Linked DNA regions of Homo sapiens: region 2 is linked to region 1. Evidence: fine-mapped expression QTL. Tissue or cell type: lung. Region 1 holds a variant in brackets; the other region holds the start of a gene. All regions are shown on one strand. Distances are from middle to middle.

Evidence for each region. PIP is the estimated chance that this variant, and not a neighbour inherited with it, causes the effect.
Region 2: DENND4C starts here. The variant in region 1 is fine-mapped to the expression of DENND4C in lung (TOPMed, PIP above 0.99). The same link has a PIP of 0.9 or more in aorta, breast, esophagus muscle, fibroblasts, subcutaneous fat and sun-exposed skin.

The regions. Positions count from the first base shown.
Region 1 is chr9:19,182,532-19,186,877 of GRCh38, forward strand. No RefSeq gene overlaps it. Among named protein-coding and RNA genes, the nearest start is that of DENND4C, 46 kb to the right of the region's middle. RefSeq lists enhancers at 1,945-1,994, 3,973-4,346. The variant A/C (reference allele first, on the strand shown) is at 1,955.
Region 2 is chr9:19,229,120-19,233,133 of GRCh38, forward strand. DENND4C (DENN domain containing 4C) reads left to right here and starts at 1,574. Exons shown (of 33, transcript NM_001330640.2): 1 at 1,574-1,714. RefSeq lists enhancers at 732-981, 1,366-1,872, 1,873-2,378 and silencers at 1,012-1,311, 1,392-1,761, 1,982-2,121.

The DNA.
Region 1 (4,346 bases):
AACCTGCATTAGAATCACTGTAGGTATTTTTACAAATATAGGTTCTGAGGCCCCACCGCATACCCACTTAATTAGAATGGGGAGAAGGGGAGTCTGTGGTTTTACCAAGCTTTGTGAATGATTTTTAAGCATTCTGCTGCATTGCTTTCTAAACCCAGGCCTGTTTCCCACACTACTGTAATCAAGAGGGAACACTGAAGTTTCCTCAGTTCCTTCCTGTTTTTTCCTGTTTCCTTCTGCAGTGACCAACACTATCAGAAATGGCATTTTGGCAGGGACAGGGAGTACAGGAATGGAAACAGGAAAGGCATAAACAAGACTCCTCCTCTGCCCCAGGACTCTCTCCTGTGGGTCACATTACCAGTGAAGGCTTGTGAACTCTGATTTAGCTAAGTTAATTTTGTGCAAAAAAATAAATTTTGGCCCGGTGCGGTGGCTCACACCTGTAATCCCAGCACTTTGGGAGGCCGAGGCAGGTGGATCATGAGGTTAGTTCAAGACCAGCCTGTCCAAGATGGTGAAACCCTGTCTCTACTAAAAATACACGCAAAAAATTAGCCAGCGTGGTGGTGGGCGCCTGTAACCCCAGCTACTCGGGAGGCTGAGGCAGGAAAATTGCTTGAACCCAGGAGCTGGAGGTTGCAGTAAGCCGAGATCACGCCACTGCACTCCAGCCTGGGCCACAGAGAGGGACTCCATCTCAAAAAAAAAAAAAAAAAAAGAATTCTGGGGAGTTGTAGTGCTTGTTAAAAACAGATTCCGGGCCGGGCGCAGTGGCTCACGCCTGTAATCCCACCACTTTGGGAGGCCGAGGTGGGTGGATCACAAGGTCAGGAGTTCAAGGCCAGCCTGACCAAGATGGTGAAACCCCATGTCTACTAAAAATACAAAAATTAGCTGGGTGTGGTGGCGGGTGCCAGTAATCCCAGCTATTCGGGAGGCTGAGGCAGATAATTGCTTGAACCCTGGAGGCGGAGGTTGCCAGTAAGCCAAGATTGCACCATTGCACTCCAGCCTGGGCAATAGAGGGAGACTTCATCTCAAAAAAAAAAAACACAGATTACAAGGTCCTTTAGTAGAGATGATGATACCTTAATCTAGATGATTCAAATGTAGGTAGCTCTCAGAACACACTTTGGAGAACAATGACTTAAATCCAGTGAAGAAAATCTCCAAGAAGCTGTGACAATATGTGGTCTCTTGAAATCTAGAGATTGGTGCTACATGTGATGGCTCACCCCTGTAATCCTAGCATTATGGGAGGCCAAGGCGGGTGGATCACTTGAGATCAGGAGTTGAGACCAGCCTGGCCAATATGGTGAAACCCCATCTCTACCAAAAATACAAAAATTAGCCAGGTGTGATGGCGCGTGCCTGTAATCCCAGCTACTTGGGAGGCTGAGGCAGGAGAATCGCTTGAACCCAGGAGTGGGAGGTTGCAGTGAGCTGAGATCGTGCCACTGCCCCTCAGCCTGCACTGAGCTAGACTCCATCACAGAAAGAAATCTAGAGATTAGCTACTGAATATTGACAGCTTTATCTTCCCAACTAGCAAAACGATCCCTGCTAGAAGGAACAGATTCATTTTGGAAAAAGTATTCAGTAATCTCTGAAGCACAGAAACATTTTTTTCATTCTTGCTATGCAAACAGATTGTTGGCCTTCTTCAGTGAGGCAGGCCAGGACAAAATCTCAGCAGGCCCTTTCGACAGCATTTCTCCACAAATCAAATTAGGTCAAAGAGAAAATTCAGAGCAGTCTGAGGAAGGGAAAAAAAAAGCCCTGAAATGTGTTATAAAACTGGTGGGCAGGGGACAGGGGAACATCCCACCTACTTTGTTTGCTCTGGTAAAGGCTGGTGGCTTGTCACATGAACCCCAGGCCTTCCTGTTCTCGGCAGCTGCCTTCTGAGTCACTGTGGGCTGCAGGGGAGGGCCCCCTAACATCAGGGAAC[A/C]TAACAACCATATGACTCTTAGGTGAGGCCACTGCGCCAGGCCAATTCAAAAATTAAAGAGCGACTACATTGCCGATTTTCATTTATTTTAAGAACTTCTTTACTCCGTTTTTGTCTACAACTGCAAATTAGCAGAAGACAAAAAACAAACTAGTAAGTGGAATTCACATCTGGTAAGTGAGAACTGGTGCCAGTCCTATTAGTCACCAAGATCACTTAAGGGTGGAGTGCACTAGCAGGATAAAACATTAAACCAAAAGCAATACTTCCTTGTAACAGCTGGAGTTTCCTAAGAAATTTTTAAAATAAAAACCTAGAATGCCTAGCAGGCAAAATACCATAGTTAGAAAAGTCAACCTTTACTTTTCTCTTTTGATTGTAGTCAACTGTTGCATAATTTTTTTTTTTTTAGGCAGAGTCTTGTTCTGTCGTCCCAGCTGGAGTGCAGTTCACTGCAACCTTCGCCTCCTGGGTTCAAGTGATTCTCCTGCCTCAGCCTCCCCAGTAGCTGGGACTACAGGAGTATGCCACCAGGCCCAGCTAATTTTTTTTTTTTTTGTATTTTTAGTAGAGACAGGGTTTCTCCATGTTGGCTAGGCTGGTCTCGAACTCATGAACTTGGATCATCCACCTGCCTTGGCCTCCCAAAGTGCTGTGATTACAGGCGTGAGCCACCGCGCCTGGCCTGTTGCAGAATGTTGCTGGGTATATTATATTATACTATGTGAATTAAGAATTCTCTATTAAACAGTTTTAAGTTGTAAGAAAGCCACCCTAAGTTTAAAACTTTCAGTCTTTTAAAACTGATGCATTAAAGAACTACTCCAAATAAGAGAAACAACACTGAGGTGTGATTCATTTGAACTTGAGTCCCGGTTCCTTAACCCAATGCCTGGATGCTAGAGATGTTCAATAAAGACTTAATGACTGCATAACCAACTTATTAGCTGTAGAATAGTTATAATAATTAACTTCCTTGAGCCTTTGTTTTCTCTTCTGTGATCAGGGAAGAAACCTCTTCTGTCTACCTCAGAGAATTTTTGTAAGGATCAAATAAAATAATGTGTGTTTAAGTTTTGATTTCTTTCTTTTTTCTTTTTTTTTGAGATGGAGTTTTGCTCTTGTAATCCAGGCTGGAGTGCAGTGTGGTATGATCTCTGCTCACTGCAACCTCTGCCTCTGGGGTTCAAGCGATTCTCCTGCCTCAGTCTCCCGAGTAGCTGGGGTTACAAGTGTCCACTAACACGCCCGGCTAATTTTTGTATTTTTAGTAGAGATAGGGTTTCACCATATTGGCCATGCTGGTCTTGAACTCCTGACCTCAGGTGATACGCCTGCCTCGGCCTCCCAAAGTGCTGGGATTACATATACAACCTTTTTTTAAAAAAAAATTATTTTTATTTTTATTTTTATTTTTTGAGACAGAGTCTCGCTATGTCACCCAGGCTGGAGTACAGTGGGGCAGTCTTGGCTCACTGCAACCTCCGCCTCCCTGGTTCAAGCGATTCTTGTGCCTCAGCCTCCCAAGTAGCTGGGATTACAGATGTGAACCACCACACCAACTAATTTTTGTCTTTTTAGTAGAGACGGGGTTTTGCTATGTTGGCCAGGCTGGTCTTGAACTCCTGGCCTCATGTGATCCACCCGCCTCAGCCTCCCAAAGTGCTGGGATTACAGGTGTGAGCCACTGCATCTGGCCAATACAACCTCTTTTTTGATTAGAGCTTTGAAATTGGGGTAGGTTTACTGAAAATAGAACTGTACCAGAGAATTGCATCTGAAATATGCAAAGCTCACCTGGATATCTCAATAGCATGGCAATAACCACCCTATAACCTTTTTAAAAATAAATCTCAGTGGAAGTGATGCTGAAATCTCTCCTTAAGGTCCTCTTTCTCAATCAACTATAATTCAGCAAACATTAAACTTCAGTTACCCGGAAAAAGATTAGGTAATAAATGTGTTAATCATAGACTGGATCATAATCAGCACCGTCACCTAAAGAATACTCACCCCTTAAGTAATCCAAAAGAAAACTAAGAAGCAAAAATCCAGGGTTTGTTTCTCTATAACCAAAATAGAAGAATGTCCATAGTCATTACTGAGCATTAACCATTTGAAGATCTCCTTCCTTTTAACCTCAAGACATTATAATATCTCTTCCTTACTGTCAGGAGACCTAGAGTCCTGTCCTGGCTCTGTGCCTATAGTCATAAGTTGATCTTATCCTTAAAAACGTAAAAATCTTTGTCTTTATTTTGGCCGAGCATGGTGATATATGACTGTAATCCCAGCACTTTGGGAGACTAAGGCAGGTGGATCATTTGAGGCCAGGAGTTGAGGACAGATCGCTTGAGACCAACCTGGCCAATGTGGTGAAACCCTGTATCTA
Region 2 (4,014 bases), 46 kb after region 1:
CTGGAACTCTCGACCTCAGGTGATCCGCCCGCCTCAGCCTCCCAAAGTGCTGGGATTACAGACGTGAACCACCGCGTCCGGCCCACAAGCTAAATTTTGAAGTATTAGATCCTTTCTTAAACTTTTGCTCTTCGGATTGTCAATGTCAAAGATAGTTTCCAGGGGGACCAAATTGGCCCCAAACTGTTATTAAATAAGCCTTAACTTTTATTGCTGCGCATTTCTTCTGAAATCAATTCTGACTGCTTACGTGGTTAGAAAAATAGTTTCTGCTATTGAATATAAAACTCAAATTATCCATGGCTATGCAATAAACTTCAGAAATAAATGGACAGCAGTGCATTTATGACCCAGGTATAATCTCACATTTTTATGCAAAAATACAGATTAAATAAGGAGAGTGTAATTTTCAGGAAAATGATTATTTATGTGGATACTCACCAGATATGCAGAAATCTTACCAGTTCTGATTTTGACCTGCCATGGAATCTGAAGTCATTCGCCTTTTTTTCCCCCCAGAGGTAAAAAAGTTATCTCTACTTCAAACCATTTCCTTCTTCCTAAATAACTAGTAATTGCTTTTTCATTTACTATGATAACTCAAAAACGTTGTTCAAAAATATCCTGCAAAATTTGCATTATAGAGAAACGACTCTGCAGGCGTCTGTGTCGATAATGAGGCTACACTTAGGAGGCGTGAGGGTACTGACTATGCAAATGAGCGATTTCTCCATTAGGAATTCCCATCCCCAAATCTGGGCCGAAGGAGAGACACCGAGCGCGGCCAGGGACTCACATGGTGCACTGGAGCCAAGGGGTTTCGGGAAGGGCCAGCGCGCGGGTCTCTCTAGAGCCCTCTACTCATGCGTGGGAATTCCAGATTCCTTCCCTGGGAAGGAATCTTCACGTATCTCCCGGCACTGTCCTCAGTGACCTTCAGCCACTCGGCATCACTTTCCCTGTCTTTGAAAACTCCGAGAGAAGCAGCCGCCACCTGCCTCAGGCCAAGGCAATAAACCCACATCACACCGCCAGTCTGAGCCCTGCAGGAAGGGGTGCACAGCGGCCTCCAGAGCGCTTTCTCCCCAGCTCTGTTTCTGCAGGCTCGGCCGCGCGAACGCTGAGGAGGGGATCGGAGGCCCGCAAGGCTCAGACCCCGCGCCCCGCGGGGGTCGCACAGGGGTCGGGCGGGGGAGGGGAGCGGTGGCTGCAGGGCCTCGGCCCTCCCCGGGGGAGGGGCCTGAGCACCGCACCGCCCCCCTCCTCCCTGCGTCTTCTCCCTCCCACCCCCCGCCCTTTTCCACCCGCCCCCGCAGGAGGAAAGGGAGAGGGAGGGGGAAAAGAAAGTGCTGTTTTGTGGAAAGGGGCGGAAGGCGGGGGAGAAAAAGGGAACAGAAACATGGCGGTCAGGTCTTGGGACGGCTGCGCCGCGGGCAGCTCCTAGGCGACGCGCCGCCCGCACTGTCCGACGGCTCACAGCGCGGAGGCACCCGCGCGGGCCAGCGCTCCGGCCATCGCCCCTGGCTGTAGGCGGCGCCCCTCGGAGACCCTGCCCGCGAGGCGGCGCAGGCGCAGACCGGACTGAGGCGGCGGCGGCCGCTGGAGCTAGTCCCCCGCCCTGCCCTGCCGAGCGCGCCCAGTCCGCGAATCCGGTGCTTTCTTGCCCCAGGAAGAAGCCGTGTCGGGGCTGCGCTGACAGAGGAGCAGGCAGCAGGTGAGGCTGCGGCGCGGGGCCTTTGGCGGAGGAAGCCTGCGCCGTGCCCTCGCGGGGCCTGCGCTGCAAGGCTGGGAGGGCGCGGGACAGGTAGAGCCCGGAGGGCTGAGTTCCGAGTGGCTGGCCCGCGGGGGGTCGCCGAGGAGGCGGAGAGTGGCCGCGGCTGGCGTTCGTGGCCTAGTTTCTCCGCGGTTTCCGGGGGCGGGGAGTCCCCGGATCCTGCGGGATGCAGTCGGGGAAAGGCTGCCCCTGAAGAGCCTCCCCGCGTCGCCCGCCGGGCCCATGAGAATCGTTTGCGTACAAGCGCGAGGGGTCTGGGCCCGGGGGACCGCCGGGGCGACGGCCGCTTTGGTGGGGGCCGGGGTGCGGAGGGAGCAGGATCGGGGCTTCCCAGAGGGGGTCGAGGCTGAGAGAGCGGAGAGCTAGAGCCAGGGGTGGCGGGCAGTCTCGAGAGGAGTCGGGGGACTGAGAAGTGTCGGGGACAACGGGGAGGAGGGGGACCTGGGCAGGTGTCTCTGGTGAATTGAAGACATTTCCTTCTCTGTCTTACGGTGGCCGATCCTCAGGGCTTCTTTGTCGGGGATGACTTTCTAGGAGGGCAGTATCCTTTTAACTCTGGAGTGACTAAACACAAAACCAAGGAATGAAGTCCTAAGGCTGACTCCTGTAAAGAGCTGTAACTTTTTCTGTTTTAAGAATGCTGTCACGTCTTTTTTTTTTTCCTCCCCTTTTCTGCTTGATAGACCTTTTCCCTCTCGAAGACCGTCTTTTATCTGCACTAATAAGGAATTACCCAGTTTTTAAATAGTACCGCCTCCTTCTCCCCTTATGTATGTTTGTCACACGGGAAAATTTAGGGTAGTTACCGCGGGTACTTGTGCAAATTTGAGGGAAAGTGTCATTTCCAGTAGTGAACCCTCAGCTGTCTCTTTGTGCCTCCGAGATACTGTCAAGCGTTGTAGCCTGAGAAATTGACCCACTGAGCCTGCTTAATTGTGTGCAAACCCGTGTTGAGGCGTTCTTCCTAGGCCCTAATTTACGTAGGAATAGGTTTTCCCTTCCGGTCTGTGTATAATGAGAGGGGAGAACGTTAGTGCTAAGGCGCTAAGTTCTGGATAAATACTTGATTTGATGTGATAGTGTGTATTACTCTATCAGAAATGCAGAGCGTTGTATGATTTTTCTGTGTACACGCGATAAGAGCAATATTAGTTGCAAAAGGAAGTTTTCATCTTTGAACATTAAAGGTATCCTTTATTCTTGATCACTATAGCATGCAAAAAAGAAACTATATTTTCTGTCCTGTTCTTTGTATTACTGTTAAAGAGTTGGTAAACTGCCGTCTTGCTGTGAGACTGGGAAGTCGGCAATGAAGTTAGATTTGTATTCATGAACATGATCTGCCTGTCATATAGGCTTGCTTTGACTTGTTTTTTTTTTCAGTAGTGGCAAAGGGTTTTCTGCCACTCAATCCACACTTTCCTCCGCATTGGTATCTCCGTTGACCATTTTGCAAAATAGTTTATTGAGATTAGGGGTCTGATCTTTTGTATAACCTGTTGTAGTGAACTGATCATATGCGACTTGACTTTGGCCAATAGTACCTCGTGCAGTGTACAGTACTACTATTTAGACTTACTGATTTGGGTAATAGAAAAGCTATGATGTTAGAAATGTTGTCGTTGTATATTGGAGAAATTTTGAAGTTGCATATTGGAGTAATTTAGTCCTGTATGCTTTGTAAATGAGTGCATTCTATTGTCGAGAGTAAATACAGTATTTTGTAGTATAAACTTAAGCTTTTAGCTGAAGAAATTGGCAGCATAGTTGGAGTGTGGAGACTATTCTTAAAACGCAAATGTTTTAAATTACAAGGAACTGTAGTGGTGTGTAGGCTGTAACAATTCCTGGTGCCAAATTTGGGAGATTATTTGGTTGAGCTACTTTCTATAAAGAAACATATTAAGTATCTGCAATAAAAGTGGATTTGTAGCTATACACAAGGGATTTTACATTATAAATAATAACTCAATAAGGCACCTTTCTTTGCTCTTTGTGTATCTGCCAGTTAAGACCAAAACATCTCATATTTTCACTGGAGCTTCCTGCCAAAACAAATACTGGTTTTGCATTGGCTTTGCTGCTCAGTTTGAAAGCTAGGGGAATCTCTTAGAGCCTACTCTGGTTCTGGAGGCTGCCTGATTAAAAAAAAAAAAAAGAAAAATTGAAAGCTAGGTTTCAGTCATATGCTTGCACCTTAAGTACAGGTTGTAAAGTAAAAAAGAAAGTTGCTGAGTCAG